Regions from separate parts of the Homo sapiens genome. Here all the other regions are linked to region 2. Evidence: fine-mapped expression QTL. A gene starts in region 2. Each other region holds a variant in brackets. All regions are shown on one strand. Distances are between the middles of the regions.

Region 1 (7,641 bases), 55 kb before region 2:
TTCTGTGGAAGAGGCAAAGTTGGCAGTTCTATCAGAGCTAAATTCAGATTCTAACATGGAAAACATTAACAAAGTTGGCAAGAGACACAAAAGCATCCTACCACTTTCTCAACATGCTTTGTGGGAAAAATATCTTCCTTTGCCATCATTCTCTTAAACAGATTAAAATGCAAGTTCTTTTGAGGTAAAGATCTCAACTTTCCTTAAACTGAATTCTAAGAAGAACCATCTACGATAGATACTTCATGTGCCTAGGACTGCGCCCAACATATAAATGAGAAACAAGCTGGTGTTTGAATTAGCTATAATTATACTCATTTTTTACACATCAAATGTGCACAGACCTAAGCCTTGAACTGCAGAACTTTGCCACAGATGGACCAGATCCTAACATAAACAGGTATACAAACCAAAACATGGAACAGTGGGGACCATGTAACACTAACATAGCCACACAAGAAAATCCAGAACAGCTATTTTAAATAATGAGGTAGAAAAATATCAAGTAAAATGGAAATATGTTCCCAGTACACTGCTAAGAAAAAAATATTACCATAAAAGCATCTAGAGTATAGTTCTATTTTTGTAAAAAATGTATGTATATGTACCTATGCATGCATATTCATTTTGCAAAAAGAAATAAAAACTCCCATCACTTAAAGGTTATAACAAAATCTCAAGTGTTTAACTTTGGGTGGTAGGATTACAAGTGATTTTTATTTTCTTCCTTTGCTTACCAGAATTTTGTAAATTTTCTAGAACTAATATGTTACTTGGTACAAGAAAAATTAATTTTACATTTTACAATAAATTTAAAGAAACCTAAGTTCAGAATACGGAAGCACCCTAGGCATGGTCTGTTTACCCTTCCTTGCCCTAGCTACACCACCATCTCTGCAACTCTCTGTAGAAATCTTCAGTGATCCAAATATATGATTCGATATTTGCTTCTATTCCACCATGAAGGTCTACTAACTGTAGGTGAGTAATACATTCAAAGATAGGAAAAATCCATCTATTAGAACACTTGTCTCTCTACCTGGGCATAACGTAAGAGCTTCTCAGTGGCCTCAGGGTCTTTATTCCAGATGAGATCTTCACAGAGCTGCAGAAGTTCCTTATGGATATCATCATACACAGGGAGGTTTCCAGCATTCACTATCCCCATGTCCATGCCAGACTAAGGGCAATACAAATAAAAATGAGAATTTACAGTGATACCTTAAGTCAGCGATCAGCAAACTTTTCTCTGTAAAGGGCCAGAGAGAAATATTTTAGGCCATAGCCTCTGTCACAGCTACTCAACTTTGTAGTTACAGCATAAAAGCAGCCACAGACAAGATACAAATGAATAGGTGTGGCTCTATCCCAATAAAATCTTATTTACAGAAACTGGCAGCAGGCCGGACTTAGCCTGCATGCCACACTTTGAAAACCCCTGCCCCAACTAAAAACTGGTTTCCGCAGGGCTAAGAGTTCTTCTACCATACCTTGATTGCATGGTAAAGGAAAACCCCATGCATTGCTTCTCGAATGGCTTCCATTCCTCGGAAGGAGAAGGACAAGTTGGAAAGACCTCCACTTATTCTGGCTCCAGGTAATGTTTCCTGGCAAAAATTTTAAAATATGAAAAGATTCCCCTTTTTTGCCAAAAACAGCAATCACATCTCTTAAGCTTTATATAGGAGTGGAAAGAAAAAAAAACAAAAAGCATCCGAAGTTCAAAGTAATTCAGAGCTTCTTGTTACTAGACATAGACCAAAGCTTGCCGTATTACAGTATTACAAAGGCGCTGCTTCGTAAGTAGTTTTTCCTACTAGACTCCAATCTCCCTAAGGAGAACACGCGCGTACACACACACACACACACACGCAGAAAGACAAAGAGGAATTCCTTATTCACTGAAAGTACAAATTACTAGAAGGCTTCCATAGCCTAAATGAACAGACTCCCTAGTTCACTATGAACTTGACCGACTATAAAAGGACAAAAGGAAATTGAAGTTCCAACCATACCGATGACAGTATCAAGCATCATCAGGCTTGTGGAATAACAGGAACTTTCACTATTATTGGCTCAAGAATCTAGGGAGACAGTTTGTCATTATCTACTACTATGAGCCAACCACTTCTGGGTCTATGCTACAGAGAAGTTCAGGCATGCATGTCTAAGATACATATATAAGAATACTCAGAGCTGCATTGTTCATAATGTCCAAAAGCTGGAAAAAAACTAGATGTCCATCAACAATAGAACAGTTAATTGTGGTATAGTTATACCATAGAATATTATACATTAATAAAAATGAACAAACAGCTACAGCCACACAGATAAATCTTTAGTATGGAGTAAGAAAAAAACATAAAAATATTACGATTCTATTTTTATTAGGCTCAAAAGCAGGCAAAACCAAACTATATCATTCAGATATTCAGTCAATTCTTACTATTTTGTGGTAGTTATGTTCTTTAAAGTCACTGCAAACACTGAATTAGGGAATACCAGAGCATTGCTCCTAGGAGAAATACAGGGCTAGGTTCCTATGAGCCTCTGATGACATTTTTGTCAACCAATCAATACATAACCTTGTTTTGTGCATGTATGTTAAGATGCTGTATCTAATATTTACTGTTGATTCATTAAGACTGAATTCACAGCCAATGGCACTATAATTCATGTCTGAACAAAGCTTATCTAACACACATATTTCCTCCCTAAGGAACATCACAGCCTTCTTGTGCTTAGAACACTAGACAGCACTAGTATGGGGCCATTTTAAAAAGTGACCTCACCAACAAAACGCATAAAAGTGTGAAAAACATGGCATTAGACTGCAAAAAGGACATCTGTGTACAGGATGAGAGCTGAAATAAGAAGGTAGGTCACTGCCATGTTTGCCCTCTTTGGGAATAATATGGGTTGGGCCACTCAAATTTTCCACCACTCTGCATATGGGTAAGTCTGAACAACTGCAGAAGTGACGTTGAGTATTGATTTTGGGGTCACAAATAAATTTCAGTAAGTACATGAATTTGCAAATATAAAATCCATAGATGATGCAAATCAAATCTACATATATAAGCAATAAATTTATGAAGAAAAGCAACAGAGTAGCGTCATAAAACTCAGGACAATAGCTACTTTATAAAATTGAGAATGAGGTGTAACTGGAAAAGGAGAGACAGACGGGGGCGCTAGCTATGCTCTATTTTGGGACCTAAGTGAAGGCTCTTATATGCTTCATAATTAATTATTTATCAGGTTCTGTGGTTTTTTTGTTTTGCATCATTTTGTTCAAGGCAGGGCCTCACTCTGTCGCCCAGGCTAGAGCGCACTGGCGTGATCCCAGCTCAATGCAACCTCCACCCTCCTGGGTTCAAGCGAGTTCATCAGGCTCTGTTATGTTCTCCAGTCTGTTTGTTACACAAGTTAAAACTCTACTAAAGAAAAAAAATAAGGTCTCCTACATTTCAGAAAAACAATTTACTAACTAAGAATGTTAACATTTCA[TCAG/G]CCAATAAATATATAAGTTAGTTCTAACCATTCATTAGACCCATGGGACAAATTTGAGCCATGACTTGGGAGAGAACATGCCTACACTTACTTTAATGACTTTTGTTGCATGGATAAAATTAATGGCATACAAGTTGTGTTCCTCCATTCCAGTCCCAATGGTTAGGATATTAGGGTCAAAAATAATGTCATTTGGATTAAAGCCCAGTTTTTTCACAAGCAGATGGTAGGCCCGGGTGCACACTCTGATTTTTGTGTCTGTTTCTGTTGCCTAGGGAAAAGAGCAAAAGATGTAGTTTGAAATAGAAAAATTATCTATTAAAATATTAATATTAAATACCTGTTATTTTATTTTAATAAAATATTAATATTAAAATATTAAGTGTTATACATTAGAGCACATTTCACTCACTGAAAACACTCAAGTGTCAATGCTTGGATTTCACAGAAATCTAAATGCCAAGCAGCTTCCGATCACTTATCAAATTATCTCAGAGGAGAGACTGGTTTAAAGATCTCTTTGTGTTTTCACAAACACAGCAGCTATACTCTTTCTGCAAAAAATCAAACCTTAAACATATACACACATATGGTATATTATGAAAAAGCTTCTAAAAATACATGCATATGATAAAAAATCAAATACTACTAAAGAAGAGATTAACATGTAAGTGCCCCTTCCTCTCTTGACCTGACAGCAGTGTCACAACCTATCACCCAGGAAACACTGCCATTGCTTTCTCAGATCTTCTTGCAAAAACATTCTAAGCATATTCAAGGATATGCATTTATTCCTCACCTTCACCCATTTTAACACTGGCCTAACATGTGTCTTAAGTCATAAATACAAATTAGTCTTTACCTTCAAAATAATGTCCCTAAAAGGCAAAACACTAACTCCGGCAAGGCTCATCCCCCAGCTGCTTCCCAAAAGCCTCAGAATCTCAGCCTCCATCTCCAATCTCATCTCCTACCATTTGCCCTCTCCTCTACTCCGCACCTCCTACATTGCTCCTTTGGTGTTTTTGAAACCCGTCAAGCTTGTTCCTCCCTCAGCAACTTTCATTTATTGCTGCCACTACCAGAACATACCATGACATGGCTTTGTGCTTCACAGAACTAAGGCTTCTGCCCAAGTGCCCCCTTTTCAGAGCCTACCTTAAATCACCCTCTCTAAACCAGCCACTTCCACCCTTCCCCACCTCCTCCATTCTTCTTCGGAGTATTTCTTTCCAGAAATTGTATTATTTTGGCAACATCTTTAGTATTTTTCGTTGTTTTATTACTTGTTAATTGGTAAACTCCTCTCCCCTAGATAGAATGCCAGTCTTGCTTTATCCCCAGTGCCCTGAGCAGTGCCTGTCAAAGTAGGTGCTCAACATTATGTATGAATGCTGCTTTTACTCAAAGTATTTCTGAACTTTGTCATGGAAACTGTCTTCAGATCAAATTTACAACCTCAACACAGGGTATTCACCAAATTACATCCTGAATTATTTCTGGTTGTATGAAAAATCAAATCTACTCTTAAAAAATGATTACTTGCTATCACTCCAGAGATAAGAAAAAATAAGTCACAATTCTGAAGGTCAATTCTCAATGAACGCGAAAAATGTTCTTGAAAAATGGCCAACCCTACTGCAATCTATATTGCAGACTTCTGTGGAGATGAGGGGGTAGGGACACGGACATAGGTCAAGTGCATCTAGTGAGGCCCTAGACAACAGAAATGAGGAGTAGGGGAATTATGAAAAGAACTCTCTCTTAGATCTAGCCTTTTGATCACTTACTACTTTGGTATTCTTTTTCAACTGTTTTCTTTGGTCTCTTTAATCGCTCTCTGCAGCTGGTGGGGTGAGACTTCACCTCTACTTGGGAGGGAAGTGCCTCCAGGACTTAGCAGACAAAATGGCCCAGGGAAAGGGAGACAGGAAGTGGTCTCTGTGGCCTCACTGCACCCAGGCTTTAGGGAAGGTGGCGAGCTTTCGTCTTCCTTAATGGAATTTTCTCAATGCTTACTTCCTCTGCCTTCAGTTAGAGTGAAAAGGTTAAGGTTGAGACTGAGATGTATGTCAGAAAAAACTGGTCAGAAACAGCCCATTTGCAGCTGCCTTTAGGCTTGAACTTTTAAAGTCTACCCTTCACCAGACAGCCCAATAGAGTTCTAGGCTCTAGGTTCATGGCTCATCTAAGCTCACTAAGAGAGAAGGCACAGGGGCGACCAATGCTACTAGTATTACTGAGTAACCTAGTCTGGTTGGTAGATGAAGAAGTCAAGGTCCTGGTCATTCCTCATCTGAGCCATGAATATTATCTGGCCAAGCAGGGCAGGTTGAAGTGAACAGTATGTTACCCACAGGAGAGTAGGGTGTAGGGCCCAGCTGTATACCAAAGACAGCCCTGCTTGTGGGACAAGCAGGTGCATCCTCACAGGACAGGAATTCATTTCTAGAACCAAAACAGAGTCATCAACTCTAACCTCCATAAGGATGAAGCCCTTGTCAAATTGTTCTCATGGCGTCTAGCACAGTATCTGTGCCACATTAACAGATACTCAACCTCTGTCACTTGATTAAACAATGACTCTCAGAGTGAACACGGCATTGGTGTACAGGCCTTTGTCAGGAGCAGGTCATATCTCATATCACGTAAGGTTCACCAAGCTTCTGTCTTACTCCTCACCAGGGCTGTGGGACAGACACACTAATAAAGCCTCAATCGTGCTGGTGGATTTCAGAGATCCAGAATAGAAGTTCAGTAAAACAACGGAATGGCAGCTTTACTCCATCAGGAAGGGCTTTCAACTCTGGTTGCACATTACAATACCCTGGAGGGATTTCTGTTTGCTTGTTTTTTATAATAGTAACACCTCACCCTGAACCAGTTAAATCAGAATCTGGAGATGGGGTCTCAGCAAGTGTTTTGTAAAAGCCCCTTAGTGATGCTAATATAAAGCCAGGTGAGAACCACCAACAGGTGAGATGTGGCACCTTCTTCAGTTGGAGTAGAAGAAAAACTCAGTGAGATTCTAAGCAGCAAGAAGGAAGGAATAAATGCCATTTATAGCTTTATCAAACAGGTTTACTCTTAAGCCATAGAGAAGCTAGACTGTGACCAGTGAGTAGAAGGCTTTACTTAAGAAGCTCATGGCTCAGATTCTGCTAAAATATCACACACTCAGGCAGTAATGCAATAAAACAATTTTTGATTTGGTCATCAAGGCAGACACTGTGAGGAAGAGAAGGACAATGTGTAGAAGACATCTAGATTCTTTAATGTAGTCTGACAAGGAGCAGAGATCGAACAGGGCTAACTTCAGAGGTGAGTTAAAGTTTTAAAATCGAACTGAAGTAGTTGAAGATGGGCGAGAGAACCCTGGAGGAAGCAGAGGCCCATCCTGGGGCTGTAATTAAAAAAAGAAGTGGCCCGGCCCAGTACAATGGCTCACATCTGTAATCCCAGCACTTTGGGAGGCTGAGGCAGGTGGATCACCTGAGGTCAGGAGTTCGAGAACAGCCTGGCCAACATGGTGAAAACCCATCTCTACTAAAAATACAAAAATTAGCCAGTTGTGGTGGCAAAGGCCTGTAGTCCCAGCTACTTGGGAGGCTGAGTCAGGAGAATTGCTTGAACCCGGGAAGCGGAGGTTGCAGTGAGCTGAGATCACGCCACCGCACTTCAGCCTGCACGACAGAGTGAGACTTGATCTCAAAAAAACAAAAACAAAAACAAAAACAAAAAAAACAGAAGTGATGGAAACGGATGTTTGTGCCTTTCAAGAGAGACACTGACAAGTAGGAAGGGAAACACTGAAGAAAAGGAAGTTTCCAAGGGAAAAAATCTAAAAATCAATACCAAAGGGAAAAAATTTACCAAAGAAAAAATAAGCCAATTACAATAAAAACAACAAACAAAACACACAGGAATGATCTAGAGATTGCCTATTTAGGGATAATTACAAAACTCCATTGAATGAGTAATTGAAAGACACGCCATGTTCCTCAATGACAAATCTAAACACTGGCAAGATACCAATTCCTTGTTATTTTCCAGGTTAGGATTAATTAGATATTAATCAAGATCCAATGGTTCTCCATAATTAGAAATTTATTTTCAAATCATTTTAAA
Region 2 (7,641 bases):
AAAAAAAAACAAAAATTAGCCAAGCCTGGTAGTATGCACCTGTAGTCCCAGCTACTAGTAAGGCTGAGGCAAGAAAACTGCTTGAGCCTGGGAAGTCGAGGCTGCAGTGAACCGTGATCACGCCACTGCCCTCAGCTTGGGCAACAGAGTGAGACTGTCTCAAGAAAAAGGGGGAAAAAAAAAAACATAGTTTCCTCAACTACTTGCTTATTTTTCCTTTAGAGGATAATGTAAGATTTCCCATTTAGAGAAACTAAGAAGTCTTCCTTCAGAAAATCTGTTGGTATTAAGTGTTCACTATTTTTAGCCTTCTGTATTCCTCCAGTTTTTCCAGTAGGAGGTCATTTTTCACTGGGCTTTAATTACCATTCTAATTCACCAGTTTCCAATTACTATCAGAACTTGCTCAAAAGAATAAGTCACCTTGACAATTCCTTCCCCTGGCAGAGTGGGGATCTACTGAAATGTCACTCTTCCATGAAGAACAACAAAATTGTATTTATCTGTATTCAGTTCATTAGGTCTAGAACATTCTGTATACTTAACTACTGACTAGTCAAGTTCTAAATAAAGCAGATTCTTTCTGATTATCTTTCACAGTAAATATAAGAATATAGTTTTGCAGTTCCTTTACTTAGCTGACTAGTTATAACACTATTTCAGAAATATTTTTATGTTTAATGTATATATGTAAATAACCGCAGTGCAGAGGAGAGTCCCAAGGAACATCCTTGGCTAGTGAGCCTAAGAGATCACACAGTATTTTCTCCAGTTTTGAGTGGATTTAGCCAATATATTTTGTGGGGTTTTTTTCCGTGCCCTTAACATCTTATTTTCTAGCTAACAATATTCTGATTCACAGCAAGTGTTCCAAAGAATAAACATAGGTATAAGTGGTTAAAGCCCTAGTCAGATTTGGAGGGGGGTAGACCAGCTAGTACCACCTTTAAGAACTAGCCTAAAGAATGACAAGATGAAGGCCTAAACAAATAAATTCCTAATATGTGCATGTAAGTTATAAATTGCAGTGTCAAGAACACATCTGCTCTGAAGGTAAAATGACCCCAAATAGATCTGACTTACTTAGGACCCCTCTTTCCACTGTGCTAAATGGGGAACACATACAGCAAAAGCACATTTTTATTTTCTGCATTATAATCAAATGATCCCAAGGCTTTCTCAGCACTGTTCTTTCTTTGCTTTATTAAAAACAATCTTACTACTGCCCTACAAGTCACTTGCAAGATACTTCTCTCTTTCATTTTTGGATCTCTAATTTCTAGTTTGCACAGACTTGCTACACTTTGTTTTTTTGGTTTTGTTTTGTTTTGTTTTGTTTTTTTTTGGAGACTAAGTCTCACTCTCTCACCCAGGATGGAGTGCAGTGGCATGATCTCGGCTCACTGCAACCTCAGCCTCCAGGGTTCAAGCGATTCTCCTGCCTCAGCCTCCTGAGTAGCTGGGGTTATAGGCGCTCACTATAAACCCAGCTAATTTTTGTATTTTTAGTACAGATGGGGTTTCACCATGTTGGCCAGGCTGGTCTCGAACTCCTGACCTCAGGTGACCCGCACGCCTCGGCCTCCCAAAGTGCTGGGATTACAGATATGAGCCACCGCGCCCAGCTTCTTTGGGGGCATCTCTTTGCTTGTGCAGTATTCCATTTTTAATATATATTATTTCCCCCTTTGATTTTAATAAGCCGGAGAAGAATTAGGCTGATACCAATTCACTGGATTATTCATTCCTTCATTAATCACTCATCAATTGATACCAATTCACTGGATTATTCATTCCTTCATTAATCACTCATCAATTGAGTTCCAAATAACACTCACAGTCCTAAGCAAGGATGAAACCAAGAAACTTTTAGAAGCTGTAGTTAAAATTTTCTCCCAAGATGTATTTGCTAGCCCACCATCCTCCTTCCCCAGGGCACACAACCATGGTCTGAAGTCACATTTAGTTTTAAGGCCCAACCTTGAGAATCAGGAATTCCCAGCTCTCCATTAAAATTTCATTAAGATTGTACGCCAGTAAATTACTAAGGGTTATTAGGAAGTTAAAACCTGATTCTAATCCCAATAAAAGTTGCTCACATAGACAGAAGCTGGACTACATCTAAGGTCTTTTCTAGGCACAATGGCCTGATTCAGAACTTCAGAGGCCCTAGACTTGGTTAAACTCCACTCAGTGCTCAACTCTAGAAGCCAGCCTTGGGGGTGAGGGGACTAGGCAAGATTCAAACATTCAACAATTTTCCTTTCAGTTTATTTTTTTTTTTTAAATCACTCACTATTCACAGTATTTTAAGTCTTCAGTGGCATTTTGCTCCTGATAATGACACCTAAATTCAGATGAAAGGGAAATAACTTTACTTGTTTAAATTAAATGGGAAGGGGGAGGCCAGAAATCATGAGTAAAAGATGTTTTCCAAATAAATATGATCTCCCTATGATCATTTATTCAATAAGATATAAATCTCTTATAGGGAGGTTTACATTTATTAATTAAATATTAAATATAAATAAGATGTAACCTCATTACATCTTATTTAATATATTAAATAACATATAAACCTCTCATAGGGAGGTTTATATCTTATTTAATAACAGCAGTGATGTGTTTCTCAGCCACAGTTCCACTAGTTTCAAGAACAATTATATCAGTCCCGTTATCAGAACCCAAGAATCAAGAGAGTCACCGGTTAACCTCTGATAAATTTCCTTGTGCGTTACGAATTTAGTATTCCCCCTCTTCCTGAAGCTAAACATCCCCACTATGTGATAGGATATTTACTGTTTTGTACTTATCACTAATTCTCGTTTCTACATCTCCTCACCCGTTTTTACGGGTGTATTTGTCCTCAAATTATAATCAGGCATGACCTTAGAGATCTAGAGCTCGTTATAAAGCTAACATTACGTTCAGTTCTCGTGCTAAACTAGCTTTTTCTCACTGTTGATCCCAGGGCCACCAACATCAGAATCGCTTGAAATTACTACCTCCCATTTCGGTATCTGGAGGTGGGGTCTGCTCATCTATTTTAACATAGTGAGTCTATGCATATTGCAGTTTTGCAGCAGCGTGCGTAGAAGCAGAAAATAAAAAGTTCCATGTAGTAGTTTTAAATAGTTCTCTGAGTTTCCTCGTCTGTCTCTCCGCGCCTGAACTTTCTTTCGCAGTAGGTGCGCAATACATATTTACGAATAAGCGTCACACCATGCAAAAAAAAAAACTTCCAGAGGGCCCAGCTGGTTTATGCTGCGTGGAACTGGAAAGTTTAGTTACTGTGACGTTAAGAATGTGTTTCGGGGGCGAGGGGAGGACGCTTTTTGCAGGTTTTGATGGCTTGCCTGGGGAGAAAGAGGTGAAGGTCGGACAAAGAGTGGAGCAAAACACGTAGCCCTCCGGGCTCCTGCGCTAAGTTCTAAAGGTGCCGCCCACACGCGGGGAAACACCGCCGGGCGTCTCCCGCCGCAGAAGGGAATCGCCCCAGGGATTAGGAGGCCACAGCACGAGTTAAGAAACACAACCCAACCACGCAGACGGGGTCGCAGCGTTACCGGGTTGCGACAGGTCTTGGAGCGCGGGTGACATGTTGTCGAGTCTCCTCCTTGCGCAGAGGGCGCGGCAGAGAAGACGTGCTCTCCACAGGTGACGACGGCCAAGGGCCACGCCAGCCAGCGCCAGGCGAGCCTGCCACACAAGGCCCGGGTCTTTTGACGCCTCCCGTTGGCTCGCGTCGCGGGGGGACTGCGGACCCCGAAAGCCCGCAGCGCCCTAGGGCCTCTCTCGGGGCTGGGCGCGGCAACTGCTGGAGCACGTGCTTTCTTCCCGGGTACCCGGCCAGTCCTTGGTGTCGGCCTAGCAGCCAGACACGCGCGGCCAGAGGCGGAGTCGCGGGACGGCACGGAAAAGGACCCAAGAGAAAACCGGCAGAGGAGGACGACGTGACATCCGGCTCTGAGCCCCGCAGACATTTAGAACCTTTCAGAGCGCGGTTAGTTCTGCGCTCAATCTATCCTCGGCGTGGGAGGTCCCGCCCCTTCCGGCCTGTGATTGGTCTGCCCGAGCTCCTCGCAGCCGCATTGGCTGTCAATATCAACCAATCACCTGCTGTTTAGCCCCGGGGCTCTCTGGGAGATGTAGTCCCGCTCCCCAGTTTCCCGCGGGAGCTTTTCGCGTCTCTGTGTGCCCAGGATCCGGAAGTGTAAGCCTAAGTGGCCCCTCTAAGGAAAAGTCACAGCGCCAAGTTCGTGCTGATCTCGACACGCTGTGTGGTGTCGAGCCTGAAATTTTAGTTCCGTTTTGCTGTTGACTTGCGCTGGGCAAGACAGTTAACCTCTCAGTCTCCACACTCTACAAACAAGAATGATAGGATGGTAGTAATTAGAATTTTTTAGGGTTGTAGTAGGCGTTAAATGAGATCGTTTGACCGCGCTATGAAAACTCTGAATTACCATATGGGGGTGTTAATTGTAACTTATTGACAGTAAACATATATTGAGCACCTACTATGTGTCAGGCATTGGGGCACACACTTGGAATGCAAAATCAGACAAGCTACATCGCACCCTCACGTCCTTGGAGGAGGAACTCACAACCTAGTTAGATTAATAATTGAACAGGGAAAAAAGAACCACATACATTTTAAAAGAGCTAGAGTATTCAAAGGGGCCAGGGAAAGGTTTCAAAGAAGAATCTGGGTCCTGAAGGAAGAGTGGTACCAGGTAAGGTTGTTCCAGTCAGGAGAAGCTCCCTGTGTACAACACAGCACTTTAGGGAATTCTAAAATAAAGGGCAGCTCTGTAAGGCCGAGCATGGTAGATGTGAGAAAAAGCAAATTCATCTAGAAAAATCTCTGTAAGGCTGAGCATGGTAGATGTAAGGAAAAGCAAATGCATCCAGAAAAATAAAAACTATAACCAAATTATGACATTTACTAAGCTTTAAAAAAGGCACAAATTTGCATGCCATTCTCATTTTATTGTATGTAATTATACCTCAATTTTGAAGATTTGAAAAATTATTATAATGCGTATCACATTCTTACCAAGACCATCTTACCAAAGATGGTCTTACTTGGAAGGTGGGGGGAATGGAGTAGGTGAGAGAGAATGCAACAAAGAAGGGAGGGAGGAATGAGATGGCCCTAAATAGCCAAAAATCTTAAGATTATAAGGGCTAGGGTGAGAGTAGGTGAGGGATAAACGACTACACATTGGGTGCAGTGTCCACTGCCTAGGTGATGGGTGCACCAAACTCTCAAATCACCACTAAAGAACTTATTCATGTAACCAAACACCACCTGCTCCCCAAAAACCTATTGAAATAAATAAGTTAAAAAAAAAGAAGAAGAAAAGGAGGAAAGAAAAAAAAGCAAGGTCTTCTATGCTGAACTTATTAAATTATTTATCCAGGCTTGATAAATCATGATGGTTTTCTCATATTTATTATTATGTTTATTCATTTCTCAACTCCTGAGTTTTTATCTGCAAAAAAAGAAGTAGTGAAATTTAACTGTGTAAAGATGCACCTGTCTAAAAAAAAAAAAAAAAGATTATAAGGGCTAGTTGTTTGTTTGTTTGAGACGGAGTCTCACTCTGTCGCACAGTCTGGAGCGCACTGGCACGATCTTGGCTCAGCTCACTGCAACCTCCGCCTCCCGGGTTGAAGCTAGTTTTTTAATTATCATGTATCCCTCAAAGTTTGTTGACGTGTTTCTTGAAAAATGATCTTTCAGGCACCTAGTCGGCAACTGTCCCCCATTCACATTCTCTTACTGGAAATTCCAGGAGTTGTGTGCCAGTCCCTGTTTGATGCAAGTCATCAAAGTTTACTCTCTCAGCTAAAACTGACCAAATTCTGTATTTCTTAAAGTCGTAAAAGAGTAACAAATAAGATTAGAGGAATACATAGTGCCTAAAGGGGCAGTGAATTTCTAGTACAAAAACGCGATTTACAGTTCCAAGAATACTGTATGGGTTGCAATGTGTCCCCCTCAAAGATATGTTGAAGCCCTAACTTCCAGTGCTTCAGAATATGACCCTATTTGGGCCGGGTGCAGTGGCTCACACCCGCAATCCCAGCACTTTGGGAGGCCGAGACTGGTGGATCGCTTGAGGCCAGGAGTTCGAGACCAGCCTGGGCAATATGGTGAAACCCCATCTCTGCTAAAAATACAAAAATTAACCAGGCGTGGTGGCTCACATCTGTAATCCCAGCACTTTGGGAGGCTGAGGTGGGCGGATCACCTGAGGTCGGGTGTTCGAGACCAGCCTGCCCAACATGGAGAAACGCCGTCTCTACTAAAAATACAAAATTAGCCGGGTGTGGTGGTGCATGCCTGTAATCCCAGCTATTCGAGAGGCCGAGGCAGGAGAATCACTTGAACCCGGGAGGGGGAGGTTGCAGTGAACCGAGATTGTGCCATTGCACTCCAGCCTGGGCAACAAGAGTGAAACTCCGTCTCAAAAAAAAAGAAAGAAAAAAAGAAAAGAAAAAGAAAAACACAAAAATTAGCCGAGTGTGGTGGCACATGCCTGTAATCCCAGCTACTGGAGGCAGAGGTGGGAGAATCGCTTGAACCTGGCAGGGTGAAGGTTGCAGTGAGTGGAGATTGAGCCACTACACTCCAGCCTGGGCAACAGAGAGATACTCAGACTCAAAAAAAAAAAAAAAAAAAAAAAGAATATGACCTTAATGACCCTATTTGGAAATAGGTTTGTTGCAGGTTAGTTTAGTTATGAGATCATCATCCAGCGTAGCTGGTGTCCTTATGAGAAGGGGAGATACACGAGGAGAAAAGAGCCACTTGCCAACAAAGGTGGAGACTGGAGGGAAGCACCTGCAAACCAGGGAACTCCAAGGATTGCCAGCAGACATCCAAATCTAGAAGAGACAAGAAAGGGTTCTCCCTTGTAGGTTTCAGAAAAAGCATTACTCTGCCTACACCTCAATTTGGGACCTCTTGCTTCCAGAACTGTCAGGTAATAAATTTCTGTTGTTTTAAGCCACTCAGTTTTTGTACTTCCTCGGAAACTCTAAAGCAATCCTTGGAAACTAATACAACTATATCTGTGGATGGGCTGGGACTAACGAGGGTCTCTATCTCTGTAGGAGAGAACCTGCTATTTTAAGTTGGTGATAGCCTGCTAGCCTGCTTTTTTCCCCCTCATTAAGCTCATTCTCATTAAACTCATCCAACACAAACCCATTGTTTAGAGGTTAGGGTCCAAACAACCTCTTGGTGATTTGGGACTTCTTTCCCTGTGGATTTGTCTTCATAGATAGAAGTGGAGATCAGTGAACCTAAATATCCAACTCCTACTGTATAGCAGTAGCAAATTGACATTCCAGCTTTATGCATTATTCTCTGGTCTTGGTGGTTGTGTCAAACCCATTAGGTGGCTCTTTGTGTCCTGCTAGTCAAGAGTCTTGCAAATATAAACTATGGGCCAGATCTGGAACAAGGATGTACTACTTCTGGAGTCTACTGGGGTGACCATGGGTTTTCCCCCAGAAGATCCCTGTCACAAAGGTGAGCCCCGCTATTTCCTTCCCTCAAATCCCTTCATAGTGTTGTTGACAAAAAGAGTCAAACTCTGTAAAATATTTGAAGAGATTCATTAAGAGCCA
Region 3 (7,641 bases), 63 kb before region 2:
TGAGTGAGCAGTGCCTGGCACAGTACTTGGCACATCACAGCAGCTTCGTAAATGATCAGGTAATGAAGGCACAAATGAATGAACTGGCTTTGTCTTGAAAACATGGGTTTTGATTGAAAAATTGTATCTATATTAAAAATGTTATAAAGCTACATTCAAAAGAAAGTCCCAGAGTATTCTGATACTCGGTTAAAAAAGGGAGAGATGTGGGATCATTTCTCTATTTTATCCTCAATAACGAACACAGCCAACCCTGACTGCTTAGGCCCCTACCACCACCTCAAGTCTTCCAGGTCAACCCACTAAAGGCCCATAGGCCTGAACAAAATGACTTGCCTCTTCTTCTACTGTGCCGTTAAGCACTCTGGTTTCTTCTCTTTCTTTTTCCATGAAAGGGATAAGGTGGCCAACAGCCTTCTTCATAACCCGGGCTGACTTTATAACCTGAGAAAAAAAGCATAGATCAGGTATCTTTCCCAAACCACAGGAACAACTGCTGATGGCCACTTGTGAAATTTGGGCACACATTAGGAATGCATGCTTTGACTTCAGGACAGCTACACTGGAGTCTTTTGACAGTAGGCAGAACAAAGGATAAGCTCCCCAGAGGGAAAGCCAGTGAATAATAAGGTACAGCAGAAGGAAAACAAGGCTGGAAATCAAATGTTGCAATTTCTGTCTTCTGAACTTTGGCTTGTTTTTTTTTCCTCTGTCTAGGAGGCCCTCTATCTTTTATCCAAGAGTTCTATGTATCCTTCAGGACCAAAGCTTCTCCACCATGAGCTCATTCCCAGCCTTCTCTTCTCAATCCCCAGCTTTAAAACTCACTTAAAATCCAGTCTTACATTAAGGCAAGATGAAGGCCTTTTAGTTTCTCAAATGCCGCACAGCCACTAACCTACATGCTCAACAAGTATGTGTTAACTGATGTGGTTAGCAGCTGCTGTAAATCAAAGTAAGAGTTCTGGTTTTACTTTAAACAAACCACTTAATGTACCGTCATTTAAAACAGTAACATTTGTCTCAAAATATGCATCCTTACAGATGAACAGTGCCTGGTCAAATCAAGTCTTAATGTTAGTAACTCTACATTTATCTTGGGTTTTACTTTACTTTTGGAGGGGAGAGATAGGCACTGGGGGTAAGAGGTGATACAAAAATTAGAACATAAGGATTATGATAGATTATGATGCTAAGAATTTTCGGATTTCCAACATCCACACCACTCTGAAGACGGATTCTTGCAGACATGACTCCTAAACATATTTAGAGAAGGAATGACTAGCCAATACCATTGAACTCTTGTCCAAATTAAAACCTGAGAAATATATCCCAAATCGCCATTTATTAAATGACAAAGAAAAGATGCAACTGTGAAAATTTCTCCCCATATTTTGCTAACCTGAGGTAGAAACATTTTTCCAGCTCCAAAAAGATCACCAACAATTTTCATTCCATTCATCAGGGGTCCTTCAATTATATTGAGAGGTCGGGGATATTTTTTTTGGTTTAACCTGGCTTCCTCAGTATCCTCAATAATATGTTTTTCAATGCCCTAAAAAAGACAAAAAAAAAAAAAAAAGAAAAAGAAAGAAAGAAAAAAAAAATCACCTAAAAAACTGCCTTACCTCCACAGAGCCATCATGAAAATGCCTAACAGCACAGGTTCCAGAAGCAGAGTGCATGGACTCAATCTGGCTTCCTATCACTAATTTAGGCAATTCAATAAGCCTCAGTTTCCTCAATTAGAATATTACAATAGTATCTCATATGTTTATTTTGAGGATTGAGATAAAGTGCTTAGCTGGCTTTATTGATACAAACAAAGTAAATACCTCATACACTTCCAAAACAGAATGTTGTATGCAGTAAATACATACAATTTTATATGCCAATTAAAAAATGCTTTAAAATATACCTCAGTAAAATGTGCTAACAGAGAAGGACTAATAAGTTCAAATGCATAAAATCCATTTTGTATCTTCGTGTTTTACCAGATTATACATTAATAAATGCCTGTGGAGAAATCAGTAAGTTTTCTCACTGTAATGCTGTAGGGCTGGGGAGAAATGACACTGGATGAGGCCCTTAAATGAAGTTCAAATCCATGAAGCCTCCATTGACTTATCCGCCCTTCAATGACAAGCCCCACTCCTCCAAGGTCCCCAGTTCAATGATCCTTGGATTGGCCAACTAGCTCCACAAACTGAAATATGTGAATCTCAAAAGGTGAAAGAGTTAAATGTTAAACTCCAGAGCCAAAAAAAAACAAAACAAAACAAAACTCTGAGATTCTCCAGACTCACACATGAGGAAACTGAAGCCAAGAGATTACTGATCTTGCTTAAAGCCTAAAATTCCAACTATGAAACTGACTTGCTGACCAACTGACCAGCAACTTGGTCCAGGACAGGATTCGCAGCCTCGGCGCTACTAACACTTGGGAAGGAATATTCTTTGTGGTTTGGGGCTGTCCTGGGCACTGCAGGATGTTTAGCAGCACCCCTGGCCATAGGATGCCAGTAATACCTCCCAGGCACAGTTACGACAATCAAAAATGTCTCTGAACACTGTCAAATGTGCTATGGTGGGGGGGGGGGGGGGGGGGGGCAGCTGGGGGACAGCAAGAGGGACCTCCCCAGGTTGAGAATCAGTGGTCTAGGCATCTCCTTCTCCAGCTACTGTCACACCGCCCACAACAGGATCAGTCAGCCATGATGAGCCTCCAGCCCTCCAGTTCAGGCCCCTGTAACTTACCTTCACAAGGGCATACTCAAGGCGTTCTTCGACAGGGCCATTTCTCCACTCATCAGTCTGAATGACTTTCTTCCCTCCTGTGCCTTGAGTCTGAATTGAAATTGAAACCAAGAAATGGATACAACTCATCACTAACCAAACTGTTTGATGGCAAAACAAACAAACAAACAAAAAAACCTGTGTCTTATTCTTCTTTTACTTTTCCAGCCCCTAGTAGACTGTCCAGCATAAAATAAGATCTCAATGAATGTTTGAGGGAAGGAGAGGGAAAAATGAGAAATCTTTTAGGGTTTGAACTGTTAGTGTAGAGACAGAGTAAAATTCCATTCTTTCCTTTCCCTCTTTTCTAAAAATAACAACTCAACACAAAATTTCCAGGACAGTAAGAGAAGCTATACTCCAAACCCAATGAGCCTTCAAAGCTCTCAACAAGGATCACCAGTACCCAAAAACAGATGCAGGGAGGCCATAATGAAGCTAAGTCAGACATCAAAGGTGGGCACACTAGGAGGTGTACGACACAGACTATGCTCTCAAGGACTCTGCCATTGTTATGGTTTGAAGGTGTCCTCCAAAAGTTGTGTTGGAAACCTAATCCCTCTGCCCCCATGAATGGATTAACGAATTTATGACGGCTGGATTAATGTTGCTACCATGGAAGCAGGTTTGCTATCTCTCTGGCTCTCTTGCTCTTGCCCTCTTGACATGAGATGCCCTCTGCCATGTTATGACACAGCAAGAAGGCCCTCACCAGGGGCCAAGGCCATACTCTTGGATTTTCCAGCTGCCAGAATTGTGAGCTAAATAAACTTCTTTATAAATTATCCAGTCTTTGGTATTCCGTTAGAGCCAAAGAAAACAGAGTAAGACAGCCATGTCATAAGAGAGGTAGAAAATATGTAAAGAAAGAAAGGGAGTATATGTCAAGGGCTGAATGAGTACATAATACAGACTAAGTACATAGGAATTTTGAGGAAGGAATGGTTATCGTAAGCTAAGGTGGCAAAGAAAAGTTTCAAAGAAGCTGAATGATGAGAAGGGGCAGATTCAGCAAAGGAACAAAAGCGCAATGATCATGGCACACCTGATAAATTGCATTACTTTATTGTTTTCTCCACCTCAACTGGAGGTACCAGCTGCCAAAC[C/T]GGAAACCTAAGTATCACCTTTGAATCTCCATTCACTACTCAAATTCAATCAATCACCTCATCCTAATGATTACACCTCAAAACTTTTTCTCTCCACCCTGCTTCCATTTTCACAGCCCAAGAACTAAGTAGTCTCCACAGCCCAGAATCATTCTGGTCTCTGATTCATCTTCCACACTGTAGCCAAAAGGATGCTTCCAAAATGCAAATCTGATCCAACTGCTCCCTGTGAAAAAAATCTCTGTGTAAGTTTCCTATTGCTTTCACGACATGGTACTGATTCCTTACCATGCCATCCAATGCCCTGATGAGATGGTTTGGCTGTGACCCCACCCAAATCTCATCTTGAATTGTAGCTCCCACAATTCCCACACGTCGTGGGAGGGACCCAGTGGGAGGTAACTGAATCATGGAGACGGGTCTTTCCTGTGCTGTTCTTGTGATAGTGAGTAAGTCTCACAAGATCTAATGGTTTTATAAAGGGGTTTCCCTGCACAAGTTCCCTCTCTTATCTGCTGTCATGTAAGACGTGCTTTTCACCTTCCATTATGATTGTGAGACCTCCCCAGCCACGTGGAACCGTGAGTCCATTAAACCTCCTTTTCTTCATAAATTACCCAGTCTCGGGTATGTCTTTATCAGCAGCATGAGAATGGACTAGTACACCTGATCTGGCTTTCTCTTCTGCCATTCCCGACAAGCTTCAGCCATCCAGAACACTTCTGTTCCTTATGCTCCCCTCCCCATCAACTCTTTACCACCAGGCCTTCGCATTTGTTCATCTGACATACATTTATGCAGTACCTATGACCATGCCAGACTCTGGCTACATGCAAATATCTCTCCCCTGGCAGGGACCACCAGCACTGCACTCTACCCCCAAACCTTGGCCTGGCCACCTCCTTTATTTCTCTCAAGTCTCACCTGACCTATCACTTCCCCTGGGAAGCTTTCCCTGACCATCTCTAGTTTGGGGTCAGAATCTCCCTCAGGCTTCTCCTAGCGTCCTGCACTTCCCCTCTCACAGCACTTGCTGCGCTGGGTGACAATCACCTCTATACATTTCTGCATGTATCACTGAGCTGTAGGCTCTCAGAGGGTAGGGGTACATCTCTCTTACTAGTTAGATCCTCTAAGTTCAGTCAAATGAATGGCACAAAGCGACATTTTAGTAAATATTAGCTGGATGAATTAATGCTACACAAAGACTGATTTTGCTGGAGTAATGTTTGTCCAGGGTGGTAGAGGCCAAGACACAGAGGGCCAAAAACCCATGCGGTGGAGTTTAAATTTGACCTTCCAGGCAATTGCATGGGCAGAAGGGGGAGACATTATTCAAAGTTCTAAAGCTGCAGATTAACATTCAAAGTCACATTTTTAAGGGAATCACAAAATGGGGAGAATATTTTAATAGTCCTTGATGGAGGCCTGGACTCAGTAGTGGTAACAGGAGGAAAGGAAAGGACAAATATAAAGGTATTAATAGACAATAACTAAGAAGGAGAGGAGGGAGAAATGCAAATCAAAAGCACAATGAGATACCATATCACGCCAGTTAGAATGGCGATAAAAAGTCAGGAAACAACAGATGCTGGAGAGGATGTGGAGAAATAGGAATGCTTTTACACTGCTGATGGGAGTGTAAATTAGTTCTACCATTGTGGAAGGCAGTGCAGCGATTCCTCAAGGATCTAGAACCAGAAATACCATTTGACCCAGTAATCCCCATTACTGGGTATATACCCAAAGGATTATAAATCATTCTACTATAAAGATACATACACGTATGTTTATTGCGGCACTGTTCACAGTAGCAAAGACTTGAAACCAACCCAAATACCCATCAATGATAGACTGGATAAAGAAAATGTGGCACATATACACCATGGAATACTATGAAGCCATAAAAAAGGATGAGTTCATGTCCTTTGCAGGGACATGGATGAAGCTGGAAACCATCACACTCAACAAACTAACACAGGAACAGAAAACGAAACACTGCATGTTCTCACTCATAAGTGGGAGTTGAACAATGAGAACACATGGACACAGGGAGGGGAACATCACATACCAGGGCCTGTCGGGGGGTTGGGAAGCTAGGGAAGGGATAGCATTAGGAGAAATACCTAATATAGATGATGGGGTGATGGTGCAGCAAACCACCATAGCATGTGTATACCTGTGTAACAAACCTGCACATTCTGCATGTGTATCCCAGAACTTAAAGTATAAAAATAATAATAATAGAAGAAGAAAAAAAAAGAAAGAAGAAGAACAAGAAGAAAGAAGAAAGAAAAAAAGAAAGAAGAAAGAAGAAAGAAGAAGGAGAGGAGGAAGGAATTGGGGAGAACTCCAAGATTTAGGGCCAAAGTGGTAACTGGAATAATAATACAAGGACTCTCATATGTTGAAAAACCTGAACGAGATAGTAAAAAAAAAGAAAAAGTCCCTCTGATGTTCACAGTCCCATCACTTGATACCTGTAAATACCATTTGTTCTATTAGCCACACAATCAGACAACTCCTACCTGGGGGATGGAGTTTTGCTGTGTAAAAACAGGGCGGTGTGTTCCAAACACTCTTGAAAAAAGGAACTGGTGTGTTCACAGAAAAATACCACAATGTACCAGACTTATGGGGTGGGAAGGGAGCAAAAAATATATGATTATGGACAGAGGCAAAAGAGGCTACAAACAGCAGTAAAGAATTCACTGAAGTGTTGGAGGTTGTGATGTCTAAAAACTATCCCACCTGATAGCTATGTTCCAAACCTGATGAATTTGACTCATGAAAGCAATACTTAAAATGAAACAGTACAGTTAAAAGCAGTTATTTCAGAAATACACAATGGCATGCTGAGGCCCATCTCACTATTCATGTAGTTATTCAATAGGGAGTTCTCCATGATACACAAACAAGGTGCTACACAGTTTTCACATACTAAGGAAGACCAGACCCAGGCACACTGTGGAAGCTTACATAGAAAGCTACCAAGCAAACTGACCAAGCAATTGTCATGTCCATCTGGCTACTCCTTGTATCTGTACGTGTACAAAGCTAATGAGAAAAACTACTTCTTCCCACTCTAGAGTTGCTTCTGCCTCACAGGGGCCTCACGGTTGTGTAGGTTATCAAAGGGAGTAAACTGCTGCAGAGAAAGCCAAGGAAGAATGTGAGCTCAAATGGTGAAGGAAGGGATCAAGGCCAAATCAAAGAACAGAAAACTTTCCCAGAAAGTATCAAGAATATTCTCAAGCTCCCGGGTCATTCCACAGCCATCCTATCCAGAGCACCAATCCTTCCACTCCATAGGAGGCCTGGCCTCCATTAGGGTACCATTTAATAAAGATCCTCCATGTAAATTACATGGTATCTGGAAATTTTTATTATCAAAAATAATTTACTTACCACAGGTCAGTCTGAACTAAATTAGGAAAATTGTTTTTCAAAAAAATCCCATTCCTCCCCAAATGTGAGATTAGAGAGCCTTGGAAGATCAGAGGCTATACTCTTCCCACTAGTTTCAATAATATATCAGACAGGAATCTGGGTGCAGACTTCTTCATTTGCAATAACCGAAAGAGATCATTCTCTTATAAAAGATAAAAAATCCCTTGACTCTTATTTGCCTCATAATATTCCTGCTCTTCATGCTCCATTTCACTCAGCGCATCCTAAGGAATTGCTACAGAGCTGGCGACTCCCAAGAGTTATTAGAGGATACCTGTTTTGGTTATTA

What was found. PIP is the estimated chance that this variant, and not a neighbour inherited with it, causes the effect.
Region 1: its variant is the best candidate, but not a certain one, in a credible set for the expression of MTR in cerebellar hemisphere (GTEx, PIP 0.55).
Region 3: its variant is the best candidate, but not a certain one, in a credible set for the expression of MTR in whole blood (TOPMed, PIP 0.83).

The regions. Positions count from the first base shown.
Region 1 is chr1:236,846,487-236,854,127 of GRCh38, reverse strand. It overlaps MTR (5-methyltetrahydrofolate-homocysteine methyltransferase), which reads right to left. Exons shown (of 33, transcript NM_000254.3): 16 at 3,605-3,784; 17 at 1,491-1,607; 18 at 1,040-1,180. Among named protein-coding and RNA genes, the nearest start is that of MTR, 55 kb to the right of the region's middle. The variant TCAG/G (reference allele first, on the strand shown) is at 3,511.
Region 2 is chr1:236,791,663-236,799,303 of GRCh38, reverse strand. MTR (5-methyltetrahydrofolate-homocysteine methyltransferase) reads right to left here and starts at 4,012. Exons shown (of 33, transcript NM_000254.3): 1 at 3,567-4,012. The coding sequence starts at 3,600. RefSeq lists enhancers at 3,407-3,596, 3,697-3,986.
Region 3 is chr1:236,855,039-236,862,679 of GRCh38, reverse strand. MTR (5-methyltetrahydrofolate-homocysteine methyltransferase) reads right to left here. Exons shown (of 33, transcript NM_000254.3): 19 at 2,758-2,847; 20 at 1,403-1,555; 21 at 337-444. Among named protein-coding and RNA genes, the nearest start is that of MTR, 64 kb to the right of the region's middle. The variant C/T (reference allele first, on the strand shown) is at 3,903.